Regions from separate parts of the Homo sapiens genome. Here all the other regions are linked to region 5. Evidence: fine-mapped expression QTL. A gene starts in region 5. Each other region holds a variant in brackets. All regions are shown on one strand. Distances are from middle to middle.

The links. PIP is the estimated chance that this variant, and not a neighbour inherited with it, causes the effect. A credible set is the group of variants that fine-mapping cannot tell apart.
Region 1: its variant is the best candidate, but not a certain one, in a credible set for the expression of TSNARE1 in prefrontal cortex (ROSMAP, PIP 0.59).
Region 2: its variant is the best candidate, but not a certain one, in a credible set for the expression of TSNARE1 in whole blood (INTERVAL, PIP 0.86).
Region 3: its variant is the best candidate, but not a certain one, in a credible set for the expression of TSNARE1 in tibial nerve (GTEx, PIP 0.79).
Region 4: its variant is the best candidate, but not a certain one, in a credible set for the expression of TSNARE1 in spinal cord (GTEx, PIP 0.90).
Region 6: its variant is the best candidate, but not a certain one, in a credible set for the expression of TSNARE1 in esophagus muscle (GTEx, PIP 0.58).
Region 7: its variant is the best candidate, but not a certain one, in a credible set for the expression of TSNARE1 in visceral fat (GTEx, PIP 0.58).

Annotation. Positions count from the first base shown.
Region 1 is chr8:142,322,730-142,326,792 of GRCh38, reverse strand. The region is part of intron 6 of TSNARE1 (t-SNARE domain containing 1); the gene reads left to right. Among named protein-coding and RNA genes, the nearest start is that of TSNARE1, 78 kb to the left of the region's middle. RefSeq lists enhancers at 175-314, 625-824. The variant C/G (reference allele first, on the strand shown) is at 1,569.
Region 2 is chr8:142,214,452-142,218,514 of GRCh38, reverse strand. The region is part of intron 13 of TSNARE1 (t-SNARE domain containing 1); the gene reads left to right. Among named protein-coding and RNA genes, the nearest start is that of LINC00051, 18 kb to the right of the region's middle. The variant G/A (reference allele first, on the strand shown) is at 2,547.
Region 3 is chr8:142,284,460-142,288,522 of GRCh38, reverse strand. TSNARE1 (t-SNARE domain containing 1) reads left to right here. Exons shown (of 14, transcript NM_145003.5): 11 at 4,038-4,063. Among named protein-coding and RNA genes, the nearest start is that of LINC00051, 88 kb to the right of the region's middle. The variant C/T (reference allele first, on the strand shown) is at 2,027.
Region 4 is chr8:142,305,408-142,309,470 of GRCh38, reverse strand. All of the region lies in intron 9 of TSNARE1 (t-SNARE domain containing 1), which reads left to right. Among named protein-coding and RNA genes, the nearest start is that of TSNARE1, 96 kb to the left of the region's middle. The variant A/G (reference allele first, on the strand shown) is at 2,542.
Region 5 is chr8:142,401,329-142,405,391 of GRCh38, reverse strand. It overlaps TSNARE1 (t-SNARE domain containing 1), which reads left to right and starts at 2,210. Exons shown (of 14, transcript NM_145003.5): 1 at 2,210-2,288. RefSeq lists silencers at 1,312-1,361, 1,802-2,371, 2,512-2,651 and an enhancer at 1,305-2,080.
Region 6 is chr8:142,258,123-142,262,185 of GRCh38, reverse strand. All of the region lies in intron 12 of TSNARE1 (t-SNARE domain containing 1), which reads left to right. Among named protein-coding and RNA genes, the nearest start is that of LINC00051, 62 kb to the right of the region's middle. RefSeq lists an enhancer at 1,639-2,139. The variant A/G (reference allele first, on the strand shown) is at 1,693.
Region 7 is chr8:142,314,886-142,318,948 of GRCh38, reverse strand. TSNARE1 (t-SNARE domain containing 1) reads left to right here. Exons shown (of 14, transcript NM_145003.5): 7 at 315-405; 8 at 3,857-3,946. Among named protein-coding and RNA genes, the nearest start is that of TSNARE1, 86 kb to the left of the region's middle. The variant A/G (reference allele first, on the strand shown) is at 2,055.

The DNA.
Region 1 (4,063 bases), 79 kb after region 5:
GATCGGGTATTTTTCTTTTTACTGTTGAGTTGATTCCTTCTAGAAGTTTCCTCCTGCTGTGCAGCCCATGCTCTCCAGGGCCTTTACTGGTGCTGGTTCCTCATCCGTCTCGTGCTCTCTGGGGCCCTCCCCTTCGCTGGTGCTGGTTCCTCATCCGTCTCATGCTCTCCGGGGCCCCTCCCCTTCGCTGGTGCTGGTTCCTCATCTGTCTCGTGCTCTCCGGGGCCCTCCCCTTCGCTGGTGCTGGTTCCTCATCTGTCTCGTGCTCTCCGGGGCCCTCCCCTTCGCTGGTGCTGGTTCCTCATCTGTCTCATGCCCTCCGGGGCCCTCCCCTTCGCTGGTGCTGGTTCGTCATCCGTCTCATGGTCTCCGGGGCCCTCCCCTTCGCTGGTGCTGGTTCCTCATCCGTCTCGTGCTCTCTGGGGCCCTCCCCTTCGCTGATGCTGGTTCCTCATCTGTCTCGTGGTCTCTGGGGCCCTCCCCTTCGTTGGTGCTGGTTCGTCATCCGTCTCGTGGTCTCCGGGGCCCTCCCCTTCGCTGGTGCTGGTTCCTCATCCGTCTCATGCTCTCCAGGGCCCTCCCCTTCGCTGGTGCTGGTTCCTCATCCGTCTCGTGCTCTCCGGGGCCCTCCCCTTAGCTGGTGCTGGTTCCTCATCTGTCTCGTGGTCTCCGGGGCCCTCCCCTTCGCTGGTGCTGGTTCGTCATCCGTCTCGTGCTCTCCGGGGCCTTCACTGGTGCTGGTTCGTCATCCGTCTCATGCTCTCCAGGGCCCTCCCCTTCGCTGGTGCTGGTTCCTCATCTGTCTCATGCCCTCCGGGGCCCTCCCCTTCGCTGGTGCTGGTTCGTCATCCGTCTCGTGCTCTCCGGGGCCCTCCCCTTCGCTGGTGCTGGTTCGTCATCCGTCTCGTGCTCTCTGGGGCCCCTCCCCTTCACTGGTGCTGGTTCCTCATCCCTCTCATGCTCTCCAGGGCCCTGGTCTTCGTTGGTGCTGGTTCGTCATCCATCTACTCCAGCCTCTTTTCCTCTCTGACCTCCTCCCCTCCCTTGGTGGTGTTGCATATCCCGCAGCTCGGAATCCCTCCTCAGTGGGGCCCCAGAACCCCAGGTGTCCCTCCAGCCCTGCCACCTTCTCTCCTGCTAACTTAGGGTCCTTCTGGACTGACCTGGGGTCTCCCTGTTAGTCCCAGGCCAAGGAAGGGACCTCCAGGACCCCACGCCACCCTGCCCTCACCGGTCGTGGGCTGGCCTGTCCACTCCTCTTGAGCTGCCCCGTGTCCACGCACTTCTCACCTCCTCTCCACCTCCTGGTCCAGGCCCGGCCTTGGCCCCTGGGCTCCTGCACTGTCTCCTCTTGGCCTCCCCACCCCTAGTCTTGCCCCCGACGGTGGATTGTCCATGCAGAGCTCAAAGCGATCTTTAAAAATGTGGATCTGATCACATCAGTTCCTGCTCAGGATGTTCCACTGGCCTCCCTCCCTGTAAAGTAAAACCCAGAGTCTGTGTTGTGGCCTTTCAGGTCCGCCCAGCATGACCCTGACAACTGTAGACCTGTCTCATGGGCCACACCA[C/G]CCCCTCCAGTCCCACGGCCTCAGGCTTCTGCCCGCGCTGCCCTCTGCCGGCCTCACTTCCAGGCCCGCTCAGTCCAGGCCTTGCCGGCCCACTCGCCCTGGCCACCTCCTCCACCGTGGGCGGTCCCTGGGTCTGTGCACCAACACCACTGCGTTGTGTTGACTTGGGCATCACCTGCTCATGAAACTGGGCCGTGGTCTACATGGAGTCACTCCTGGGGTGTTGCCAGGTCTAGGACGGGGCAGTGTACCTACTGGGAAAGGGCAGGAACCAGGAAATCAAACCAGCCCAGCCACAGGCTCTTCCCACAGCCCCCTCAGCCGAGGGACCGGCAGGGGCGTCGCAGTCACTAGGAACACGGACAGAGGGGCGGGAGCGCCGATTAACCACTCGAGTCTGGAGTGGGCAGCAGGGTGCCTTCCAGGGCGAGTGTGTCACCTGGAAGCTGGCATGGAGGCTGGGAGAGCTCGGGACCCGGTGCCAGGGAGCCTGGGCTGGTCCTGACCCTACCTCTGCCCACTCCAGCTCACCAGCTCCAGCCTGCAGGTGCTTTTGTGACTCAGGGCCTTGTGTCTTCGTCTGTAAAACACAGGTGGTCATGGGAGTAAATGAGCAGGTATGAGATACGCGGGACATGAGGTGCTTCTAAACGGCATCTTAAGTAATGACAAGCAAATGCGAGAGCCTCCGTACTCAGGTCGGTTCTGGCCCCGGCAGACTAGGGCAGGGCGCTAGGGCAAATGGGCCTCAGGTGACACACCCCCCAGGCAGGCCTCGCAGACTCCTCAGTCACCTGACTGCTGGCAGCAACGGCACCACCTGGCTGGTAGTACAGGAGCCGCCGAGCTGGCAGCTGTGCAGACCTCGCACAGGAGTGCTGGGAGAGGGATGCTTGGGTCAGGTTTCCTGGACCCTGTAGCCGCCTGCCTGGCCTTTCACCAAAACTGTGCAGAGCTGGCTTTGTGGGGATACATGGGTTTTGTAAAGCGGTCGTGGGGCTTCAGGTGCAGTTTGATGAAGGCTCCAGTTCACTTGGTTTCTTTTGGCTCTGCTGATGCATCAGATTCAATCTCAGGCCAGCTTCTCTTGAGGTGACAAATGGGTCTTATGGTTCCGGGCATTGCATCTGTATCCCACATTGAATGTGGAGAGATGGGCCCGCTCTCTCAATGTACAGCTAGCGTTTCCAGCCTTCTCTGCCTCACTTGGCTCCTGGCTGAAGCAGTCCAGGGCGGGTGAGGGTCACAGGTTCACTGACATGGGCCTCGCTGGTGTTGGGGTCATAAGACAGGTGCAGTCTCATCCATCTCCCTGCACTGGATCCACTGCTGTTCCCCAAGCCATGCATGCTATGGTGATGGAGTGGGACCCCTCCCTCGGTGGCCGTGAGGATGGATGGGGAAGTGAGACACAAGCGGGAGGGGCACTCTATTTGTTGTTGTGGCAACTGCCTCGTGATGGCGAGTGGGAATGCTGACATCATCAGTCCATTTTCTAGTGAGGATGGTGACTCCCTGGCTCTGACAGTGTGAGCTCCCGTGTCCTTGGGCCAAGTGCCCTGCTGGTCCTGGGTTGCTCTGTTGCCCTTGCTGAGGCACCTCGGCCTTTGGAGCAGTGTCCAGCCTCAGATTGGAGTCGCCATTTCCCGGAGGAGCCCCCTCCAGTGGGACCCACACTTGGCCTTGCTGCCCCGTTGCCCCTCACGAGGCCTCCCCTTGCCAGCAGGAGTCTGCCTAAAAGTGCGTCTTTAGGATGTCTCTCATACTTTGGCGACAGGCAGAAGTTCCAGAGAGTCCCCGATGGCTCACTGTCCACTCTGGAGACCCAGGAGGTGGCCACGAGCTGTTCCTCGCCTCGCCTGCCCCATGCCACAGTGTTCAGCCAGCCATGCTGGTGCTGCCCCCCGTGCTGCCCAAACGCATCTCCTCCTCTCATACCCCTTTGTAGCTCAGTATACATTTTAGAATCAGTTTGTCAATTATTATTTCTTTAAAAAAAAGCTTTCTATAATTTTTTGGGATTACCTTGAATCTGTGGATAAATTAAAGAACTGGCATCATAACAATATCGTCATCCAGCCCACAGACATGGCTAGGCTGGCCTTTAATAACAATATCGTCATCAGCCCACGGATGCAGCCAGGCCGGCCTTTCATAACAGTATTGTCATCCAGCCCACAGACATGTCCAGGCCGGCCTTTCATAACAATATCATCCAGCCCACAGACACGGCCAGACCGGCCTTTCATAATAGTATCGTTGTCCAACCCACGGACACGGTAAGGCCGGCCTTTCATAACAATATCATCCAGCCCATGGACACGTCCAGGCTGGCCTTTCATAACAATATCGTCATCAGCCCACAGACACGGCCAGGCCGGCCTTTCGTAATAGTATCGTTGTCCAACCCACAGACACGGTAAGGCCGGCCTTTCATAACAATATCATCCAGCCCATGGACACAGCCAGGCCAGCCTTTCATAACAACATCGTCG
Region 2 (4,063 bases), 190 kb after region 5:
GGACATGTCTGAGGGACATTGGCAGTGAGCTGAGGGATGGGCACTGTTCCCAACCAGACCAGGCTCTGAGTGGTCTGTGCTCCAAGAAGGCCTAGAAACCCACACAGTGAAGCTCCAGGGAGCCCACAAAGTGGTCTGGCCCTCGTGGTGCCTCAACAGGCAGCTCTCCAGGGTGGACACTGGATATGACCTGGTCACACGCTGAGCCCTGACCCTGGCCACACCCTGAGCCCTGACCCTGGCCACACCCTGAGCCTGATCCCGGTCACACTGAACCCAGATCTTGGTCACACGTTAAGCCCTGACTCTGGTCACACTCTGAGTCCTGATCCTGGTCACACTGAGGCCTGACCCTGGCCACACACTGAGCCTGATCCTGGTCACACGGAGCCCTGATCCTGGTCACACACTGAGCCCTGACCTGGCCACTCTCTGAACCCTGATCCTGCTCACACTCTGAGCCCTGATCCTGGTCACATACTGGGCCCTGATCCTGGCCACACACTGAGCCCTGATCCTGCTCATACTCTGAGCCCTGATCCTGGTCACACACTGAGCCCTGATCCTGCTCATACTCTGAGCCCTGATCCTGTTCACACTCTGAGCCCTGATCCTGGTCACACACTGAGCCCTGATCCTGGCCACACACTGAGCCCTGATCCTGCTCACACACTGAGCCCTGATCCTGCTCACACCCTGAACGCTGATCCTGGCCACACCCTGAACGCTGATCCTGGTCACAAACTAAGCTCTGATCCTGGTCACACACTGACCCTAATTCTAGTTACATTTTGAGCCCTGACCTTGGTCACAGGCTGAACCTAAACCTGGCTATGGACTAGCCCTGACCCTTCATTGATGAGGCCAGAAAGCATGGTGCATGCACACTGTTTCCCTGGAGCAAAAAGTTGATGCTGACGTAGCTGAAGTGAGTAGGTCAGAGTCACCTTTTAGGTGATAAACCCAGTTCAAGGGCTCACCCCTGCCCATGACCACCTGCCCCTGCCTGCCTGCTGGCTCTCGCCTCTGGCCAGCATTCAAGATCTCAGCACCATGGACAGCAGCAGAGGGGCCCAAGCCTCTTGTGGGGTCAGCCATTCCTTACGCCGTTGCTTGCTTGCTTTTTCTTTCTTTCCCTTTTTTCTTTCTTTCTTTCTTTCTTTCTTTCTTTCTTTCTTTCTTTCTTTCTTTCTTTCTTTCTTTCTTTCTTTTTCTTTCTTTCTTTCTTCTTTTTATTTTATTATTTTATTTTATTTTATTATTTTATTTTTGAGACAGAGTCTTGCTCTGTTGCCCAGGTTGGAGTGCAGTGGCCCTATCTCGGCTCACTGCAACCTCCACCTCCCAGGGTTCAAGTGATTCTCTTGCCTCAGCCTCCTGAGTAGCTGGGATTACAGGCATGTGCCACCATGCCTTGCTAATTTTTTGTATTTTTAGTAGAGTCAAGGTTTCACTGTGTTAGCCAGGATAGTCTTGATCTCCTGACCTCGTGATCTGCCTGCCTCGGCCTCCCAAAGTGCTGGGATTACAGGTGTGAGCCACCGCGCCCGGTCCTTAGGCAGTTTCTCCACGACTGTTCACCTACCGTCTCCTCTCCCTGTTTCATCTCCCCTCTGATGGGGGCTGAAACCCCGGTTCCCCTGCTGTCTGGTGTCCAGCCCAGTGTGGGGCCCAGGGATGTCCGAGGCAGATTTGTCGACTGAGAGGAGGATAAACAACCAGGCAGGGTCGGTGCCAAGTATCTGCCCATTTTACAGATATGAGGACAGCTCAGAGGGGTTGATCCTTGCCAAGGACTTTGGGCCGGCCTGAGTCTGTGCCTCTGCTCGTCCCCCACCCCAGGCTTTGCTCCTCTCAGGCAGGAGGGAGAGGATGGAGTGAGGCAGAGCCCTGTGCCCCGTGCCCAGGCTGCTGACCAGTGCGGGGAGGGGTGGGGTGGGACAGGGGGTGCTATGCTGCTGTGCCAGGCCGGGAGGCCGACACCCTCCAGCCTCATCTCCCTGAGAGCCAATTTCCATAACCCTGCAGTAGCATCTTCCTGGAGACCCCTCTTGGGCCCCCGAGCGTGTGGCCAGAGGACGCCAGAGCCCAGGCAGCTCCTCAAGTCCCAGTGATTATACCTGTGCTACTCAGCTGATCAGGGAGAGCCCAGGCCTCATCCTTCCCAGCCCCACACCCCCAGCCCCTGCCTCTCTGCACTGCACCAGCGTCCGCCCATCTGTTCCAATCCAAAGATCTCCCCAGCAGCATTCATTTCAGTGCCATATGGCTGAGGCTCAGCCCTCAGAGGAGGGGCGGGGGCACCATGGCAGAGGTGGGAGCTTCTTCTACACCGGGCCCTGGGGGTGAAGAGACCCAGCTAGGGGTCTGGAGGAGCTGGGGCTGAGGGGCGGCAGGGAGTGGGGAAGGCTCATGGCTTGGGCCTAGAGGATGCCATGGGAACCTTTCCCCCTCAGATCTGCCCCATCACAGGGCCACTCAGCCGGCAGATGCCACATGCCATCTGCTGAGGCAGGCAGAGGCTGGGCTGAATTTGCACAGGGCCC[G/A]AGGGCCATCCATCCCTGTATCCCCAGCCAGGCCTCACCCCGAATTCCATGGCACCACAAAGCCAGCCTGGGGTGCAGGCGGAGGGTTGGCCCATTGACCTTCAAGCCTCCAGAGCTCAGGGGAATGTGGCCTGCACTAGATGCTGAAGGGCGTGTCCAGGCCCAGCTGGGTGGGGCTGAGCTGGCAGCCTCAGCAAAGGTGCCCACATGGGGCTGCCACTGCCAGCTGGCCTCTCACAGGTGTGTACTGGGTGGGGCAGGGACTTCCCTCCCAGGCTGCTGCCCCCTTGGCCTGCCCTTCCCCTCTCTCGGCTCAGTCTGCCCTCCAGGTGTGAGGGCAGGGAGGACTCCCTGGTAGGTCACGGGGGACAGCTCTCCTGGGGGTTCTCAGGTTCGAGGCTGGGCCCTGCTGCCCTGGCTTGGACAGAGTGTGTGTGGGGAGGCTGAGGGGTGGTGGTGGACAAGGGCAATGGATGAGACCCAGTTCCCAATCTTGGGGGACACATGTGGGGATGGGAGGGGCAGTTCTGGCCAGAAGATGGGGGCATCAGGCACTGCAAGGCTGCTCCCTGACCACCATTGCTGCCACCTCGCATTAGACCCTGTCCACTGACACCAGGACACTGCGTTGTGTTGAGGGGCACGCTGAGCACCACCATCCTTGGGGCGCCCCCACCCTCATCCCCAGGCAGCTAGGAAGTGGGGGGTGCCTCCGAACACAGCTGGATCCTGGTCTGGCAGTCACTCTGCCAGAGCAGTGCAGTGCCTGGGAGTTGGAAACAGCCGTGCACATCACAGATTTGTTCACTCGATCAATACGCATTCATGGTGTCCGTGCGGGCCCTGGCCTGGGCCCGGGGACACCTCTGTGGACACCTCCATGGACAGGACAGGTCTCTGCCTGCAGGTGCAACTGTCTGGCTAGGAGCATGGACAGAGTGTGATGAGGCCAGAGGTGAAGCCCCTGAGGTGGGAAGCGCTGGGGGAGGGAGCCCTTGTCGGTGAGGGGTCCTTATCAGCTCAGCTGCTGTAACCAAGCACCACAGGCGGCTTCTACCACAGAAGAAACTGCTCTTTGCCCTGGAGGCTGGAAGTCCCAGATCAGGGTGCCGCCAGGGCTGGGTTCTGATAGGGCCCTTCTGGGCTGCTGAGGGTGACCTCTCCTACATCCTCACGTGGCGGAGGGAGGGCGGGAGCTCTTGGGGCCTGGATCCCACCAGGAGGCTGCACCCTCAGGACCACGGCACTTCCCAGAGGCCCCACCCTTCACAGCATCACCCTGGGGGTTATTTTCGCCTTTGAGTTTTGGAGGAACACAAGCACTCAGACCGTAGCAGGGGCTGGAATGAGGCTGGTTGTGATTTTAAACAGGCCTCACCGAGAGTGGGGTGCAGGGAAAATCATTCCAGCAGAGGGAACAGCCCAGGCCCAGCGCAAGGTAGACCTTGGGCCTGGCAGAGCCCAGAGTTCTGGGCAGGAAGTGAGGGGCCAAGTTTTGGGGATGACTGGAGAACTAT
Region 3 (4,063 bases), 120 kb after region 5:
GCAAGCTATCTGTGAAGCCAGGCAGTGGTAGTGAGTGTCGGCGATGAGATGGAAAATCACTTCTGCCACTGCCTCCGGGGGCCTCCCCCAAAACCTAGAATGCAGGCCATCTGTGCCCTGGGGGCACCACAGGGTCTCTGCCTGTCTTGGGAACACCGTGTCCCAGCCCGCGCTTTTGGGGTTGTGGAAGTTGACTCTGATGTCAGCAGGGAACGCCCAGTGCAGTGGCCGTGTGTGCACAGAGGCGTGCCTGGAACACTGAGGCCGAGCCTCAGGGACTCGCAGCTGCCCCTCTTCCACCCCGCCCCAGCCGCTGGGCGTCCCAGGCCCCTGAAAGGCACTGGACCCGGCCTTGCTCAGCCACACCCCTCCCTGGCATCTCTCACCAAAGCTGCATCCCCACAGGCTGGGCAGGGGCTCGGAGCCATGCTTCCCCCCAGGGACACAGCAGCATCATGCCAGTGTGGCCTTTCTCTGCCCCTGCTCATGGGAAGCAGATTGATGGGTGCACACACGTAAGGCCCATCCCATGCTGGTGGCTGCAGCACGGGACGTCCTGAAGGGAGCCCCACGATCCCCGAGATCTGACCGAGGTCCTGGGTTCCACGACCTGGAGGGCGGCCCACTGTCCCTGAGATCTGGCCGAGGTCCTGGGTTCCACGACCTGGAGGGCGGCCCACTGTCCCTGAGATCTGGCTGGGGTCCTGGGTTCCACATCCTGGAGGGTGGCCCACTGTCCCTGAGATCTGGCCGGGGTCCTGGGTTTCACGACCTGGAGGGCGGCCCACTGTCCCTGAGATCTGGCTGGGGTCCTGGGTTCCACTGTCCCTGAGATCTGGCCGGGGTCCTGGGTTCCACGACCTGGAGGGCAGCCCACTGTCCCTGAGATCTGGCCGGGGTCCTGGGTTCCACGACCTGGAGGGCGGCCCACTGTCCCTGAGATCTGGCCGGGGTCCTGGGTTCCACATCCTGGAGGGAGCCCCACCATCCCCGAGATCTGGCCGGGGTCCTGGGTTCCACATCCTGGAGGGTGGCCCACTGTCCCTGAGATCTGGCCGAGGTCCTGGGTTCCACGACCTGGAGGGCGGCCCACTGTCCCTGAGATCTGGCCGGGGTCCTGGGTTCCACATCCTGGAGGGTGGCCCACTGTCCCTGAGATCTGGCCGAGGTCCTGGGTTCCACGACCTGGAGGGCGGCCCACTGTCCCTGAGATCTGGCCGGGGTCCTGGGTTCCACATCCTGGAGGGCGGCCCACTGTCCCTGAGATCTGGCCGGGGTCCTGGGTTCCACGACCTGGAGGGCGGCCCACTGTCCCTGAGATCTGGCCGGGGTCCTGGGTTCCACGACCTGGAGGGCGGCCCACTGTCCCTGAGATCTGGCCGGGGTCCTGGGTTCCACATCCTGGAGGGTGGCCTTGGGTGCCACCCCGCGTTGATGGTGGTAGTGACCTGGGTTGGAGTCTGTCTAAATGTGGGTTGGATGCGGATTCCAGCATTTTCCAGCTGTGTGTCATTGGGCAGTCACTAACCCTCTCAGTGACTCAGGTTCCGTCTTCCCTGTCAAATGCAGCAATAACAGGTGAGTCACATGCCGCATGAGGAGATGCTTCTGCCTGTGAAGCCCTTGGGAAGGCCCCTGCAAGTCCCTGAGGCCATGAGCCACCAAGACCAGGCTCAGGGTGCACCAGGCCTGGGTATGCTCAGTGGCCAGGGTCGAAGTTGGTGGTGAGGTCATGCCTGGCTTCTGACGGGATCACGTCTATAACTGGGAAGCCCGTGGAGGTGGGGACCCACCTGGCTGAGCCATACTTCGTGACCTTGATGTCCCCATTGTAGGATGGAGCCTAGGCTTGGTCTCCAGAACCCGTGACCTCACTCTGGCAGAAGGTGGTGGTGACGAGGAGACCAGAAACCGGCCCGGGCCAACCCGCACCCATCCTTTCGTTCACTGTTGCCCCCATAGCCATGCCACAGATGCACACTGAAGCCATGACCCCTGGGCCCCACCTTCTCGCTACCTTCCCAGC[C/T]ACTGCCCAGTTCCTGCAGAGGGACCGCCTGCCTCTGCATCACATTTAAGCCTGATAATTGAATTGCAATTGATACTACGTGTCAGTTTAAGATCATGCTAATTGCTTCATTTCCCAGAATACTCCTAAAGAGAAAATGAATTCCCTTGTAACATTTTGCAGTGGGGTGAAATGACCCTCATGGAAGTCAGTCCCAGCTCTGGAATGAGCTGCTGACTGGACGGGTGTGCCAGGGCAGGGGTCACGGCAGGCCTGAAGGATCTTCCCCTGGACTTGGCTGGAACCCAGCCATGTGCCAGGCGCTATGTGAGGAGGGTTGCTTTTGTTCGGGTGATAAGTGAGCAAACCTGGCTTGAGGTGGCCAGGCTTGCCCAGGGCCATGCATCTGGCCAGCGGAGGAGCCGTCCTAGGTGCAGCGTGGCAGTCAGGGAAGGAGTGGGCATCTGGTCGGTGGGCAGGGGTCTGAATCCCAACTCTTCCCCTTTCCGAGAGGCCCTGGAGGTCATGGGACCACTTGAGCCCCCAATCCCTGCTCTGTTAGATGGGTGCTAGGATGCCCCTGGGTGGGTGCCAGGTGTGAAGGGGATGGTATGTGCCTTGCCTGAAGCACAGCCCAGGTGTGTGCTCTGAGAGTGGCGTGGCCACGTCTCTTAGGATCATCAGAGCCACTTAACTGGGAAAAAGGAGTTAGGGTAAAGGTAGACAGCATGGAAGATGGAAGAGGCCAGCACAGTATGCCGGGGTGGAGGGGTACCCGAAGTCCTCCTGGCCCACGTTTCTGTTCCTTACTCTGTTCACTAGCTTCATGGAGCCACTCAGTCCTTGGATAGCAGTGGAGCAACCATCCACTTAGCCGCTCATTGACCAACCCACCCACCCACCTGTCCATCATCCATCCACATACCGTCCATTCACTCTTCCATCCATTCACCCACTCATCTATCCCCCCATCATCCATCTATCCCTCATCCATCCATCCATCATCTACCCACCCACCCACCTATCCACCCATCTACCCACCCATGCACCCATCCATCCACCTACCCCACCCACCCACACATCTATCCATCCATCCATCCATCCATCCACCCACCCACCCATCCATCCATTCACCCATCCATACATCTACCCACCCACCCATCCATCTACTCACCCATCTGTCCAACCACCTATCCACCTACCCATCCATCCATCCACCTACCCATCCATCCATCCACCTACCCATCCATCCATCCACCTACGCATCCATCCATCTACCCATCCATCCATCCACCCATTCATCTGTCCATCCACTCGCCCATCCACCCATCACCCACCCATCCATCCACTCACCCATCTATTCATCCATCCACCCACCCATCCACCATTCCATTTGTCCACCCACCTATTCACGCATCTGTCCATCATCCTTTCATCTACCCATCCACCCTTTTGTCCACTCCCCTGAACCCGTTCGTCCATCTATCCCACTTCTTTAGGATTTGCTGAGCAGTGCCTGTGTGCTGGCCCATGCTCAGTGCTGTTACACAGAGAGGGAAAGGTAGACCCTTCTGTGCAGGAGCACCCAGGCAAGTGGGGATGGTATATCTGCCCTAGACATTCTCTGCTCTCTTGCAGTCAGGCCTTTACAGTGCTGGGGATGCTGTCCTTCACTAGACTGCAAATCCTGGGGACAGACCCTGGGACCTCTGTACTCAGGGAAGCAGCTCACAGCCCCTAGGACACCTGGAGAGGTTGGGGTTTGGCTTCAGAGTCAGGAGATGGAGCACTCAGATCCCTGCCCTGTCTCTGACTTTTGGGGTGACCCTGGGCTCACCCCTGGCCCTTTCTGGACCCAGTCATGCCTTCTGTCACAGGAAGTGGACAGACCAGCCGGTCCCCAGCTGTTCTCTGGTTCCTGATTCTGCAGGTGCCACCTGGGCCCGCCCCAGGTTCCATGGGAAACTTTCAGGTGCCCTTGGTGTCTGCCCCACAGCCCTGCTCCTGATGTGGTTCTATGTTGTTTCCACAGAGCAACTTGCTGGATGTGAATCAGAT
Region 4 (4,063 bases), 96 kb after region 5:
TCAAGGAGGCTAAAAAACTCTTGGCAAACTAGGAATAGATAGGAGTGCCTTTAATCTGCCAGAAGGTATCTTCAAAAACCCTACAGTTAACGTTAGGCTTACTGAGGGATGTTAAAGTCTTTTCTCCTAAGATAGAAGATAAAACTAGGGCATCTAGTACTGTGGTTTCTGTTCCCCATTGTGCCAGAAGTTGTATCCAACGCAGTATGGCATGAAAAAAAAGAGTAGGATTGAGAAGAAACTGTGTTTCATAGACAGTGTGATTATGTCCATGGAAAATCCGAACGCACCTGTAGCGTGCTGTCAGAATTCATCAGTGAATGCGGCAGGACAGGTCACTAGACAAGAAGACATTGTGTATGCTGGCAAAAGACAGTTTGGAGAGGAAATTTAAAGACTGATATAATAAATTTATTACAATAGATAAATTTCTTCAAAAAATTCTATGAAGAGCGGTTTAAGGCCTCTACATTAAAAAACATGCCACATTACTAAGAGAAATGACAGATGACCTAAACCACGGAGGGGTTGCTGTGCTTATGGAGATGTCAGCTCTCACCCAGTGGATGATCTAAACCATGGAGGGGATACCGTGTGTATGGAGATGTCAGCTCTCACCCAGTGAATCTGTAGGCTCAATACAATCCCAATAAGGTTCCAGCAGGTTTTCAGTGTGTGTGTGTGTGAACTGTCAAGCTGATTCCAAAATGTATATGGAAATATGAAAGACCCAAGATAGCAAAGGCAATTTTGAAGAAGAACGAAAGGGATTTATACTATCAGGTATTGGAACACACTATAAAGCACAGAAATGAAAACAGTGTGGTGTTTGTGTGAGGCTAGACACACCAGCCCGTGGACACACCAGCCCACGGACACACCAAGCCGTGGACACACCAGCCTATGGACACACCAACGCATGGGACAGGGTGGAGACTGGACACGGACCACACGTACGTGGCGGCTGGGTTTGTGGCCGAGGTGGACTGCCCTGCCACGGGAGGTGGGTGATTCATTCAGAGCTTGATACGGATCACTCGGATGTTTGAACTGGAAAAAAAGGACCCTTTGCAAACGTCAGCTCACCCTGTGCAGAAAGCACTTCCAGCCGGACTACAGACCCACGTGCGAAAGATAAGGCAGTAGCACATCCAGAAGGCACCATGGGAGGCTCCCCGACGCCTTCACGGTGGACAAGTATTTCTTACACAGACGCACAAGTGCCAACCGCAAAGGAGAAGGTCGACACACTTTGTTAAAATTATACCCCAGGAAGAGAGTGCAGCCCACAGCACAAGACAGGGCGTTTGTACAACACGTGTGAAAAGGACTTACATCCTTAATATATAAAGATATCTTACAAATCAACAAGGAAAGGGCAGACAACTCTATTGAAAAACAATGAAAGGACAGCAGCTTTCCACAGGCACCTCACAGAAGAGGATTCCGGTTGGCTCATAAGCCTGTGATTGTGTACTTGGCAACACGAGTTATCAGAAAAATGGCAAAGAAACCCATGATGGTAAATCACCACACACCACACCCACACAAATAACTAGAGCAAACATGAGTGAAAACCTCTGCAAAAGCCGGGCGTGGGCTGCGTGCAGGCGGTTGCACTCTCATGCCTTTACTGGTGGGGTGTGCCTTTGCATCACCACTTTGGAACACTGTTCGAGAATATCAAGTTCAGCATTTTCTGACCTAGGATCTTGCAGTTCTGCCCAACAGACATGCATATTCAGTTGGCCCTTCGTATCCATGAGTTTCACATCCATGGATTCCACCACTCAGACTGAAAATATTTTTAAAAGATGGCAGCTGTTCTGAACATGGACAGCCTCTTCTTTTCTTGTCATCATTTCCAAAACAATACGGCAGAACAACTATGCTATTTACTACATAGCATTTACATCATATTAAATATTATAGGCAACCTAGAGGTGATTTAAATATATGGGAGGATGTGCGTAGGTTGTATGAAAATACCAAGTCATTTTATATCAGGGACTTGCGCACCCACAGATTCTGGTATCTGTGGAAGTCCTCGGCCACTCCCCCGTGGAGACAGGACAACTGTGTGTTGACAGAAGTCACATGGGAGAATGCTCATAGCAGCCCCCACGCAGTGACACAACCTGGAACACCGCCCAGTCTGACCAGCACAGAAAAGCAGCACCTGCTGAATTCATGCCACGGGGGACTCCACAGCAGCCAAAAGAGTGAGCTGTGGCCACCACGCCCACTGGTGATGTCTCGGACATAACGCTGAGTCCAAGCTGAATTCATGCCACTGGGGACTCTACAGCAGCCAAAAGAGTGAGCTGTGGCTACTGTATGATCAGTGGCCCCACCAGTGATGCCTCGGACATAACGCTGAGTCCAAGAAGCCTGAGACCCAAGGGGATAGACTGTGGGATTCCATTTCTGTAGTATTCAGAACCAGGCCCCACTGGTGGACAGTGTTAGAAGTTGGAACTGGGTTCTCCTCTGTTGGGGGCCTGGGATGACAGGTGCTGGAGGGAGGCCCCGGGGGTCCTG[A/G]CCAGTGTCCTGTGTCTTGGCTGGGATGTGTTTCCTTTGTGAGCAGTCATAGAGCTATATCCTTTGCACCTGGCATTGAAACACAGATGTATTGCCTTTCGGTAGAATTTTCTTTTAAAAAGGTGGGGAGTGGCCAGTAGTGCTTCTGAGAAATCATGGAAGGTTAGATTATTTCTAGGAATTTGCAAACTATAAATGATGAGATGATATGCAACCCTGTTCAACAAAAGGACTGTTGCCAAGTTGATGCTAGGCTGATGTGGGGGGACTGGGGGGCTGCTACTCACAGGCCGGGCAGCCCTGGCAGGTGCGAGGGGCACTTGCTGCCTTCCCCGTCTCTTGCCTGTCTCCCCTGGGTGTGGGGTGAGCAGCTCAGCCTGTGTGGAGTTGGCGATCCTGGCTGTGGTCCGTAGTTTTCAGCTGGGTCGAGGGTCAGTCTCAGACCCAGCTTGGGCTCAGCCAGTGAGCAGCATCCCAGTCCCTGGGGCAGCATCAGGGCAATGGCCCCAGTGGCAGGTCATGCTCTGTCTCTGCCGTCACTGGCCACCTCAGCCTACATTTCCACCAGGACTTCGTGTGTCCCCAGCCGGGCTGCAGAAGTGAAGACCTGCTTCACTCTCACGGGCTGGCTGGAAATTGCCTAGACACGCCTCCATGTTTGAGGCACAGGGCTGGAGGTCGCCCCTTGTCTCTGGGTCCATTTCCCTTTGATTTAACGTGGGGCTGGGGGAAGCATTGCCACAGCCGTGTCCGTCCTGATGTTCTGGGCTTTGCCTCCAGAGACTCCACCAGTGAATAAATAGAGTCTGTTGCTGCTTGGAGGAAACAGTGAGCTATCTGGGGCTCCTGAAAAGACACCACCACTCCCTGTGTGAGCGCCTCTTGCCCTGGCCCCTGCCCTCCCTCGGGTCGGAGTGCATGAGAAAGTGGTCTCCTTCCCAGAGCCTTGGAGAGCCCTGAGCGCCGGCCTCGGGTCCCTGCTTTCTGAATGCCTGGCAGAGCGGAGTCTCTTCCCACGGGAAACCGTGTGTGCCCTGTCTCCAGCACTCACGTTAGAGCATGTCTCTTCCCTACGTGTCGGAACAGGGACCCAGGCCCTGAGCCCTGTGGGGAGGAGAAAGCCGCCTTTGTCTGTCTGCCTCTTGAGCTGGAAAACTATCACAGGGCCGTCCCCTCTGCGCTTGCCCCAGCACCTTGCCAGCAAATCCCTAATCCCAGCCTCGGAGCTCAAGACCCAAATTGGGCCTTTGTGGGGAGAATAAAGGAGCGCTTTGTGAGCCTTTCAGGAGGAGGCCGCGGAGGGACCCGGGCGTCTAAGCCATCTCTTCCTCCCCTGGCTTTTGTCCTGCACTGCTGGGGAGAGCGGCACCAGGCCCCCGATCCTCCCGCTGTGGAGGTGAGGGAGACCGAGCACCTGCGGGGTCTCCTCTGGCCCGCACCCCAGCCCTGCCGCCTTCCTGGGTGTCCACACGGCTCGCATCCCAGTGTGACTGCCTTCCTGGGTGTCCACACAGCCCGCACC
Region 5 (4,063 bases):
TGGTCTCACTGGTTGGCCAAGGGGTGGGACCAGAGTTCTTCCCAGGGAGTCCTGCTTCTCTGGAGGAAGGAGGGAGCCCAGAGCTGCCCGAGGTCATGTGATGACCTCTTCCAGGGAGGGGCAGAGATGAGGGAAGGGAGGGGAGCCCCGGCCCTAGGCCCAGGCAGCTATTGGCTATTTCCCTCATCCCTTCCTGAGGACCCCTTAGCATCCTCCTCCCCCTCCCCATCGGCTCAGCCTGAGGGAGTGGGCTCCTGGCTCTTCCACGGAGAGGTTTACCTTCCCTGACTTGCTGTGGGGCACTCAGGCGGGCTCATCCCAGATTTCGGAGGAGCCAACAGGTACGGAGCCCCTCCTCTGGTGGTTCCTACCCACGCTAGACCATTCCCCCTGCAGTGTCCAGGCACAGAAACAGCCCCATATACGCCTTGTATGGTCAAGAAAGCGGCTCCTGGAGGTGGTCTGCCCTGGGAGGAAAGGGCTTCACTTTCCCCTCCTTTGCACACCTGAACACGGAGCTGTCAGAGGAGGCTGAGTGAGGTGGCGGCCAGACAGACAGCGCCAGCCACGGAAGGGGAGGTGGGCACCGTGCCAGGCACCCGGCATCCTCAGTCCAGACTGACAGCTCTCAGACAGGCATTGGTCCTGGCGAACCTTCCCCTTCAAGTGGAAGCTGGGGGGTCAGCAGTCATGGGCATCCTCCCTGGTTAGGAGCCGGCTTCCCTGCACTCTAGCTGTCCTAGCCGAAGAGTGAAGCCCTGTCCAAATCATGGCGAGGCTGCAAGACAGGCACACACTACTGCCTCCTGGGAGCCCAGGGGAGACTGAAATACACCAAGGCAAGGAGCGTGGGTGGGCCCAGGACAGGCCGGCCTGAGCACCAGCCCAGGAATGCTGGTGGGCATGTGCCCCTCTTCCCTCCCACCCATGTGTGCACACATTTGTGCCATATACTACCGTTCCCATGTTTGCGCCTGGGCACACACTTGTGCCAGCATACACACACTTGTGCACTTGCACCTGGTGTCCAGGAACACTCCCTCAGCTCACAGACGTGCGCTGTGTGCACACAGTACCACGCAGTGTCCACGAGCACACTTTTGTGTTCGTGTTCACAGAACCCGTGTGCGCACACATGCACAGTCCTGGGCTGCAGAGAACCCCAGCCAGCGGGGCGGTGGGGGAAGGGGAGGGCACGCCTCCTTCCCAGGAGCTCAGCAAGGCTGTCCGCGGGAGCCCAGGGCTGCCCGCAGGGCTTTGGCGTAGGCCTCGCAAGCACAGCAAGCATCACAGAGTGAGGGCGGCGGGAGAACCTCCGCTTGCCGGAGAAGGTGCAGCGGACTCATCACTCTTGCTCTCCTGCCTTGGGTGTGACTCTTGGTTCACCTCTGGGGAAACAGGCTGAAAGGTGACCCTGGCGGCCCAAGGACACACACCCATTGTCCGCAGGTTCCTCCCAGGTGTCTTCTCCAGCAGGTCACCGGGAGAGCGAGGGGCTGGAGTCTTTCGGGAGCTCAGTGCCCGCAGGCAGAGCAGGGAAAGGGAGGCGCCCCAGGCCCCTGCGGAAGGAGGTCCCAGGAGGGTCTCCGCAAGGGGCTCCCTACTCTGCACTTCAGCTCCTCCAGGGAGGGGCTGCGACCTCGGGCAAAGGTCCCTCAGATGTCTTGAGACTCAGTTTCCTCGTTGGTGACACTGGGAGTCCGGAGTCCCCGCGGGGCCTGCCAGCCCCCGGCCGAGCACGGCCCCACGCGGAGCCCGTGCAGCCTGACTTGGGGCCCAACGCCCGTCCCCGCAGCGCGAGACGCGCAGGTGCCCGGCCCTGCCCTGGCCGAGACCCGCCGCCTGCGCAGCCCCGCAGAAGCTCCAGCTTTGGCCCGTGTGAGGTCCGGGCTCGGCCTGGGCTGGGCGGAGCCCGCTCCCGAAGCGCCTCAGCGCCGGGCCGCCGCCCTCCACGTGACCTCCACCTTCGCCGTCATCCCCATATGCAAAACGGGGAAACGGGGAAACGGAGGCCCACCACCAGGCAAGTGAGGACAGCCGACTCGCGCGCGCACCCGCAGAGGCCTCTTGGCCCAGCCGACCGCCGTCCGCGCCGCTTCCGGCTCCGCGCCGGGGCCTCTGGGGCGGGTAGTCCCCGCGCGCGTCCGGGACCGGCGGCCATTGGCTGGTGCGGGAGGGGGCGCGCACGCCGGCGGCGGGAGGGGCCGTCACGTGATGTTTGGGTGCCCGCCCCGCCCGCCTCGCCCGCCGTGAGCGCCCGGAGCGGTCCGCGAGCCACCGAGGCCCAGGTGAGGCGGCGGCGGTGGGGCTGGGGCCTGGCCGGGGCCGGGCGTGGGGCGGCGAGGGCGAGGCGGCCGGGGACCAGCGCGGGGCCCGGAGCCCGGCGGGGGCCGCGGCGTGGCGTGGTATGGGGCTTGCGGGAGGCCGGGCGGGGGGCGGGGCCGCGCCGGTGGGGAGGGGAGGGGGCGGGACCGTGCCGGGGGTGGACCCCAGGGGCGCCAGGGACCCTGAGCCGCAGCCCCGCGAGAGCGCCGCATTTCGGGGACCGGCCCGCGGGCACATGAGCCCCTCGGCGGGTCCTCGCGCGCTGTTCAGACCCCAGGTCGGTGGGCTCTGGGCCGGGCAGCCGGTGCCTGCGCCTGGAGGTCAGTGCCGTCCCGGGGAGCGCCCCAGCGCCTACTTGCTGGGTGCAAGGGTTGGTGCCCTGCAGCTCAACGAGCGGAGCCCGCCTTCGAGCCTGAGCTGGGGACCCCGTTCCTGTGTGCTTGCCTCTCCATGCCTTTCTGTCCCTTCTCCAAGTTGTAAGAAGGTGCTTCCTGGGTACTGGGGCCTGCGACATCCCCACCAGGGACTTTCAGGTGATGTTGATCTGTGCTGCCCCCGCAGAAACTCTCCAGGGACCTCGTGTTTGTTGCCTCATGGCGCACTCCTCCTGCTCTGGAAGCTCTGCCATGTCCAGTGTGGTAGCCCCTAGGCATGTGTGGCTGTTTACATTGTCCTTAACGTGAAGGATTCAGGTCCTCCGTGCCAGTGGTCACATGTCCGACACTCAGTAGCCACACGTGTCTGGTGGCGGCTGTGTGGGGCAGCGCGGGTAGGGAACACTGCTTATCACAGGAAGTTCTGTGAGCGGTGTGGTGCGGCTCAAAATGGGCCTCGCGCGTGCTGCTCCGCCGGTGCTTCTCCGCCCCTCATCCTGCCAGGTGCCTTTCCAGCCACACCTGGCGCCCTTTCTTTCCTCTGCTGCACACTTGCCTCTTCTTTTAGTTCCTGGCTCGCTCCTGGCTTGGGGGCAGCTCCGCTTCCGGTATGTCTGAGCTCACCTTTCTGACCGCTCTCCCTACAGTATTTCTTGTTTGTCATTGTCACTCATCTGCTTGTTTTCTGTTTTATCTTTAGTGCCTGTGAGACAGGGGTGGGGATTGTTGCTTAGGATACTCCCAGTGTGGACACAGTATTGAGTTGAAAGAAAGCTGAAGTTTGTTAGTACTGGAGTGCTTCCCCCGACTGAACCGCTGCTTTCATACCGTTCGACCCCATACATCACAGGACCGCAGCAGAAATCTGGTAGAACAAATGTTTGGACACAGCAGCACAGGCCGTGAATGCAGGTGGCTGTGGGAGGCTGGCAAATCCAAGACGACTTCCTGGAGGAGGTTGAGTTTTGGCTGGGTCACCTCTGTTTCTCTCCTCCTCTGCTGGCCTGGCCCCATGAACATCTGGCAGCCTCTGGCTGCTCTGACTCTATCCAGGAACCTTCCCTGGACACTTCCCCTGAGTCTGGCCTTCTGTAGATGCTGGGTCAAGAGCCTAGACCTAGGCACTCAGTCTAGGGGCTCATGGGCAGCCAGGTGTCCCTAAGTCTCTTCCACAGCTCCTCATGGCCTGCAGAGCGAGGTCCTGGGTTTGGCTCCTGCCAGCAGCTCCTGCCACATCTTCAGTCCCTGCTTTATGTCCCTGACAGTGCAGTCATTTTTCCTGCATAGTCTGTGGCTTTTCTCACTGGTGTGCCTGTCGATGCAGAGCCTTCTGCTTGGAATGCCCTGGCACTCCCGTGTTTGTC
Region 6 (4,063 bases), 140 kb after region 5:
CCTAAAAACAGCCATGCCACCTGGAAGAAGAAGGACGAGGTAGAGAGACTGCTGTCCCACCACGGAGTCGCCGCAGGCCTGAAGGGGACTTCGGTGTCTGCTGGAGGGCTGGGCCTTGTCTTGTTACCATGAGCAGGTTGGCGTGAGCAGCTTCATGAGCCTGTGAGAGGGACACCAGGCAAGAGTTGATGGGGCTGGGAGCAGGCTGGCCCCGCCGTGGGATGGAAGGAGTGGCTGTTGGGGAGATGCCCTGGGCAGCTGTGGCCGGCAGGACTCTCCTGGGCATAAGCCCTGCTGCCCAGGTTGGACTTGGCTGGCATCTGGCACTGTGACCTGTGCCCCCAGGGCAGGTCTGAAGGACAGACTCGTAGCATGTTGGAGGAGGCTCTGCTGGGTATAGCGAGGGCAGCCTCAGACCCCTCTATGCCCGTGAGCTGCCTTGTCGGAGCTCGTGGTTTGGCAGGAAGGCCGGGAAAACGCAATCGTTAAAGGAGAATAATAACCCCCTGCACCCCCACCCCGGGGCCGTGGCCAGGATGAGGAGCAAGGAGAAATGCTGCCTTCACAGATCTTTCCTCCGCCAGGAACATCCTGGGGCTCACATGGGTCAATGCATTGAGGCATCACAGCGCCTGTGCAGTGGGAGCGGCTATAGTCTTCAAATAACTACAGAAAGCAGGGAGTGCCAGCATCCCAGCATGTGCTGAGTTCCCAGCAGGTGTTCACCACTCTCCCTCCCCGGTCCTCCCTCTCTCCTTCATCCCTCCTTCCTCTCTCCTCCCACTATCCCTCCCTCCCCCCTCTCTCCTCCATCCCTCCTCCCTCATCCTCCCACTCTCCCTCCCTCCCTCCTCCCTCTCTCCTCCATCCCTCCTTCCTCTCTCCTTCCCTCCTCCCTCCCTCTATCCTCTCTCTCTCCTTCCTTCCCTCCTCCCTCTCTCCTTCTCTCCCTCTTCCCTTCTCTCCCTCCTCCCTCTCCCCTCCCTTCCTCTCTCCTTCCTCCCACATCCTTCCCTCTCTCCTCCCTCCCTTCTACCTCTTTCCTCCTTCCCTCCCTCCTCTCTCTCTCCTTCCCTGCTCCCCCTCTCTTCCCTCCTTCCTCCTTTCCTCTCTCCTCCCTCCTGCTTCCCTCTTTCCTTCCTCCCTCCTCTTTCTCTCCTCCCTGTCTCCTCTCCTCCCTCCCCACCCCCCTCCCTCTCTCCTCCCTCCCTCCCTCCCTGACTGCTTTGTCCTCTCTGCATCCTGCCTTGCTGCTTCCCCTTAGGTCTCAGATATGTGCTTATCAGAAGATCTGCCCTCACCTTCCCTTCCCTCCCTGACCCAGCTGCAGAGGCTCTGCCCTGTGGTCTCCCTCCCTGTGGAACATTAGCTCTGGGGCAGGGCTTTAGTGCCTGAGGCAGAGCTCTGCATGCAGTAGGTGCTCAGTAAAGGCAGATCACAGAGTGCATGTGCCCTCTGTGCTTCCCCCAGGAACTGGTGAGGCTGGGGCGTCAGGATCTTTCCCGGGGGACTCAGCCGACTGCTGGGGTGAGATGAAGACATGCAGAGAGGTCTCTGGCCACATCGAAGCTTTCCAGGGGAACGGGGCTCAAGGTTCTGAGAAGTGAGGCTGGGTCAGATGGTGGCTAAAGAGTTTGGGCTTCTGAGTTAATCCAAGGCCAACAAAGGGCAAGGTTAGCTGATAACCCACCC[A/G]GCCTCCCTGGCCGTGGGCCCCGGCCAGTTTATGCCCCAAGGGAGGACAGAGGACGCCTGGCCAGGGAGGGCTGAGTCCCTTGAGAGTGGGCTGCCAGACCCGGCCCCAGTGCCCATGCTTGCTCATCTGGCCCTCAACTTCCCGACTCGCTTTTCTTCCCTCCTTCCCTTCTCTCTTTCCATCTCTAAACAGTTGTGCTTCTGTGGCTCTCAGGCTCTGAGCTAGTTGTGCTGAAATCATGATTTGACTTTTTCTACTTTCTTCCCTGTAAAATTAGGGGCCTGCCCCAGGGTAAGACGTTGCACGCTTTTCTGAGGTGGCTTCCAGGTGGCAGGCTCTGGGTTCGGGGCTGTGGAGACCGGAGGAAGGAGTTAGCCATTGGCTCTAGGGAATCAAGGGAGGCTTCCTGGAGGAAGAGACACTTAACTGTGCCTGGAAGCCAGGCCCAAGCAGAGGCGGGCTGGGGGAGTGCAGAGGGTGAGTCCTGGGCCTCTGCGGCCCGAGGGCACCTGGGCAGGGTGGGGCCAGTTTGGGAAGGTGCACCAGGCCCTGAACCACTGCCCTGTTCCTGAGGGCCAAATTTCCTCGCCACAACAGCCTTCAGGGTTTGCTACGAGGCATCCCCTAGGTGCCCCCGGGGGAAGGCGTGCCACCAAGTCTCCTTCCAGAACCCCTTAGTTGCATTCTTAGCAACTCGGTATTCTAATCCTGAGAGCTGGGAGCAGCCACGTTGCAGGCAGGGAAGTAGCAGAACGGTAGGGGAAGGGGCCTGCGCCGGTGCTGGGGTGGCAGCCCTGTAAGAGGCTGCTTGTGGGGGACGTGGGCCTGTGTCCGGGGCGAAGGAGGCTGCCTTTTAATTGGGAGGCCAAGCAGGTTAAATAAACAGCAATTGGATTTTGCTGAGGCCTGAGCTGCCTGCAGTGTCCGCGGGTACAGAGAACACTGGAGAATCTCATTTTCGTGATCAGATTGTTATAGATTCTTCCCCCAGTCTGCTGAGAAATGTAAATGTGAATTGTGTTTCCAGGTGCTGTAAAGGACAGCCTGTAGGGGTATGGGGGGCAGGGAGGGTGACCCAGTCTGAACTCGGCCCTCTCAGGCCTGGGACCCCAGAAACCGTGCCCTTTCCTGTCTACAGAAGCTCTGGCCGTGCCCACTTGACCAGTCCTTCTCTGGGAGAATGCTGAACAGAAAAATAACCCTAGGCAAAGATTTAAATCAATCTGCTGCGTCTAATAAATACCAGGCTCACAGCTGAGGGAAGGGTAGAGACAGCAGTCACGGGAGTTGGGGTGCTGTCGCCCTTCTGCCCCTCGGCCCCGTCCTCAGACAACGTGCCCATCCTCCTCACCTCACCTGGGAGTGTCCTTGGTGACTCAGGAGCAACTTCAGAGTCAGACAGACCTGGGTTCAAGGTGGGCTGTGCCACGCCTCAGCTGCAGCGTGACTGTGGCTGGATGTATCTCGCCTGAGCTTGCCGGACCGTGCAAAGCGGTGGCTCAGGGGCCCCTTGGGCTGGCGGTGGGAGTAGGGCCCCGGTGATGCTGCACCCACACACACCTTGGACACCCCTCTGTTCTGGCACCGTGCCCTGCATCTGGGGCTCTTCCAGACTCTGAGCTGGGTGGGTTCTGGGGTCTCTGAGGTGAGCAACAGAAAGGCATGCGTTCTGGCTGGGCGTGGTGGTTCACGCTTGTAATCCCAGCACTTTGGGAGGCCAAGGTGGGTGGATCACTTGAGGTCAGGAGTTTGAGACCAGCCTGGCCCAACATGGCAAAACTCTGTCTCTACTAAAAATATGATAAAAAAGCAAAACCCTGTCTCTAATACAACTACAAAAAAAATTAGCCAGGTGTGGTGGTACATGCCCGTGATCCCAGCTACTTGGGTGGCTGAGGCATGAGAATGGCTTGAACCCAGGAGGCAGAGGTTGCAGTGAGCCTAGATCACGCCACGGCACTCCAGCCTGGGCAACAGAGTGAGACACTGTCTCAAAAAAAAAAAAAAAAAAAAAAGCACAAGTTCTGCAGCTGACTGGGTCCCAACTGAGGGAAGGCAGAAGGCCCAGGGGGCGAAGAGAAGACTTGTCCAAGATACAGTAAGCACTCCCTGAGTTCCACCTACAGCGTAGGTGTGCACTCGGGGCAGCAGTGGGCGGGTGCGTGCATTTACATATGCCTGCATGCATGCATCCGTGTGTGTGTGCATTTGTGTGCATGTGTGCAGTGTGCACACGCGTGCCTTCATGTACCAGTGTGCATTCCTGTATATGTGCACAGCTTATGCACTCGTGTACTGTGTGTGCACACAGGCATCTGTGTGTGCATACAGCGTGTGTACATGTGTATCCATGTGTGCCTTCGCGTGTGC
Region 7 (4,063 bases), 86 kb after region 5:
GTCTCTCCCTGTCCTGGCTCTTGGGCCCCCTCCTCTTTCTCTGTGGGAATCATCGCTGCTCTTGTCTCTGTTCCCTTCTCTCTTTCTCTGAGTCTTTGCCTCTTTCTGTTTGCTACCCTTTCCCTACTCTTGTTTTCCTCTCTGCTGTTTTCTCTGTCTCTGTGTGTCTCTCGGCCCTCTCTCCGCCTGTCCATCCATCTGTCTCTGTCTCCCCCACTCGGCCCGTGCGTCCCTGCTTGCTCCGTCCTTCTGGGCCCTTGCTCTCTGCTGCCTTCCTCCCCTGCCTTCGCTCCTGGCTCCTTCTCGGCCCCCAGGCACACGGCACAGCAGGAGACCAACAAGACCATTGCAGCCAGCGCCAGCTCCGTGAAGCAGATGGCCGAGCTGCTGCGCAGCTCCTGCCCGGTATGTTCCTGGGGTCTGGGGCTGGGAGGGAGGAGAGGAATGGACCCCTCTGCCTGTGATGGGAGCAGGGATGTCACACGAGGCAGGATACAGGGAGGCTGACGTGTGTGGATGGACACAGACTGGCCTGGCACCCAGCCTCCCATGGCTCCATGGCTCAGAACCTGTGTGCAGCCATTCAGGCAGCAGCCGTGTGCTGACCACGTGCCGGGAGCTGGTGTGGCCACCTGAACTCTTGCTGTCCTTGGCTTATGCAGTAGTGGGGACAAGAGCACCCTGGGTCTTCCTGGCAAGGCCTTACTGGAAGCTGATGGCCCGCCATTGTTTGTTTCACCATCCTCTCCCCTGCTGTGCATCCCCTGCCCCTCTGCTGCATCCGCCACCCAAGGCCACCTGCACGTGCACCCTCCCTATCCCCTCACCTACCTTGGCGCCTTATCAGACGCATGGGCCTCAAGCCAGACATATGGCCGTGGCAGTGGCCATCAGCATACCCACTGCCACAGCCATCACTACCGTTCCGGCTCAGCTGCCCCAGGGCTGTTCCCTCATTTCCACCCTGTCCGCAATTTTTTTTTGTGTTTTTGAGACGGAGTCTTGCTCTGTCTCCCAGGCTGAAGTGCAGTGGCATGATCTTGGCTCACTGCAGCTTCTGCCCCCAGGGTTCAAGTGATTCTCATGCCTCAGCCTCCTGAGTACCTGAGATTACAGGCGCCCGTCACCATGCCCAGCTAATTTTTGTGTTTTTAGTAGAGGTGGGGTTTCACCATGTTGCTCAGGCTGGTCTCAAACTCCCGGCCTCAAGTGATCCTCCCACCTCTGCCTCCCAAAGTGCTGGGATTACAGGCATGAGCCACCACGCCTGGCCCTGTCCCCACTTCTGACTGTCCCCACACCCTCCGCTCCACCACACCAGGTCAGTGCCCAGTTGCTGAAGATTGGAGGGTACTTGTGACAAAAGATTAAATACTGCTGAACCCTAAGATTTTACAGGGCAGGAGTCAGCAAGCTGCAGCCTGCTGGCCCGAACCCGCTTCATAAGCACAGTGTGAGACTCTGGCTGTACCTGCTTCATGTATACAGTGTGAGCCGCTTGCCCACACCCGCTTGATGTGTACAGTGTGAGCCGCTGGCCATACCCGCTTCACGCGTACAGTGTGAGCCGCTGGCCATACCCGCTTCACGCGTACAGTGTGAGCCGCTGGCCATACCCGCTTCACACGTACAGTGTGAGCCGCTGGCCATACCCGCTTCACGCGTACAGTGTGAGCCGCTGGCCATACCCGCTTCACGCGTACAGTGTGAGCCGCTGGTCGTACCCGCTTCACGCGTGCAGTGTGAGCCGCTGGCCATACCCGCTTCATGCGTACAGTGTGAGCCGCTGGCCATACCCGCTTCATGCGTACAGTGTGAGCCACTGGTCGTACCCACTTCACGCGTGCAGTGTGAGCCGCTGGCCATACCCGCTTCATGTGTGCAGTGTGAGCTGCTGGCCGCACCTGCTTCACGTGCACAGTGTGAGCGAGACGCCAATCTGTCCCTGCCGTAGGTGCTGCCCATAGTTGCTCTCACTGCCTTGGGAGGGCTGGGGTTGCAAGTTCGGCCTGCTGCAGAGCCAGCAGCGTGGCTCAGCCAGTCCTACAGGGGAA[A/G]TGCATGCCGCCCTCCCTGTGGAAAATACATGTGACGTGGCCAGTGCCGTGTTGGGTGTGGTCAGCAGTGAGGAGCGGAGAGTTAGGCAGGCCACAATGTGGTGAGGCTGGAAGACTGCATGCCCCCACGCAAGAAAACGCACAGTGTATGGTTCTGTTTGTGTGAAACATCCAGAAAATGCAATCTGTGGAGACCAGAAGTCGATGAGCAGTTGTCAGGGTTGGGAGCAGGGCTTGGTTTTGGGGTGCCTGCAGGCAAGGCGCAGGGCCCTTTCTGGGGTGATGGGCATGTTCTAAAACTGGGTTGTGGGGATGGCTGTACAACTAAGAGTTACTGAACTCTACACTTAAAGCGGGTAGATTTTATCAGATCTAAATTAGACAGTAATAAAACTTGTACTTAAAAAAGTAGAGTCAGTTCAAAAGTTAGTTACACTAAAAAACTGTAACAGAGGCAGCAGTCCCCTGTCCAGTGATGGGGTGGCCAGAGTCTCCCTAAAGGCAGATGACAGGAACACTGGGAGCTTTGTGCTGAGCGGCCTGGAGCCTTTCCATGCATGGGTCACTCCTCATAGCCATGGCTGCCCTGCGGGGACCACTCTGTGGGGACCAGGTGCTGCCCTGGCCTGTGCCCTCGGGCAGTGATGTCAGCAGCGTCATGACCAGCATCGACGCCTGTGTCTGACCTCTTCCTCTGTAGCTTTGTTCTCCATTCTCTGACTCAGGTGTGCCTGAGTCACTTATTCATTTACTCCTTCATCCAAGAATACACGCTGGGTCCCTCTTACGGGAGGCGCTGCGCTTACGTGAGGTGCTGAGCAAGGCCCCACATGGTGGAGGGTTGCGATTCTGAGAGGCGTTTCTGTGGGGTGAGAGCAGAGTTGGGTGGTCCGTGCAGGCAGTTTCCTCGTGAAGCGAATGGCTCCTTCACGCGGCTTGGTGGGTGCACGGTCAGTGCCTACCACGTCTTTGACTCTGTGGGCCGTGGACGCTTTGATGAGATGTAGTGCCTTCGATTGTGGGAAGAGGTCAAGGCTGTGGTAGGCTGCTCCCAGTGCCCCTCGGCTGTCAGAGGTTTACCCCAGACCAGCCCGCCTTAGCCTTGGCTCTCTCCAATCCTCCGATAGCCATGGGGTGGGTGCTGGGAGGAAGCTGTGGGCTCCTTGGTGCTGCTGCTGGTGGGTGGTGTCCACGGTGAGCCAGAGCAATGAGGCGGGCCCCAGGGCTGCGTGTCCAGCCCCACCCCGGCTCCGTGCGTGTCCAGCCCCACCCCGGCTCCGTGCTTCTCCAGCTCCAGCTCTGAAGCAGGTGCCTGGTGGGCACTGAGGTGTGGTGGCGAACATCCCAGCAGGAAGGAACTGGGGTTGGTGGACCCTGGAGGCCACGGGGAGCCCAGATACAGGCGAGATGCTGGGGAGGGGGATGGTTCTGGCAGTGGCCCCACCACCTATGTGACCACAGACAAGTCACTCGGGACTCAGGGCCACGACGTCCTGCGCTGTGGAAGAGGAGTCACAGTGCTGCTCGCGGAGGTGGTGTGGGGCCGGGTTTATGTGCCTTGGGTAGCTCCTGGCTCCGGCAGGTGGTGTTGACCCCTGCACCGGATTTTGTGGTGATGGTGTCCCTGGGGACCCTGGGTGTGCCTGTGGAGACGACGGTGACACGGAGGGGAAGTAGTTGATGGCGAGCCCCATTCTGAGTGTGGGAAGGTGGGACATCGGTACGGGAGGAGGTGTGGGTGGTGGGGGCTGCTGGGGCAGGGCCAAGCCTCCCATGCCGTGCCAGCTGTACCTTCTCTGCAGCAGGAGCGTCTGCAGCAGGAGCGTCCTCAGCTGGACCGGCTGAAAACCCAGCTCTCAGATGCCATTCAGTGCTATGGAGTGGTGCAGAAGGTGAGGTGCTGGTGGGGGCAGTGGGGGTCTGCAGGCCAGGTGGGGTCGGCCTCGGTTCCCGGAGCACTGTCATGGCTGTCTTGTCCCTGTGGGCCTGGTGCAGCCCCATCCCCAAAG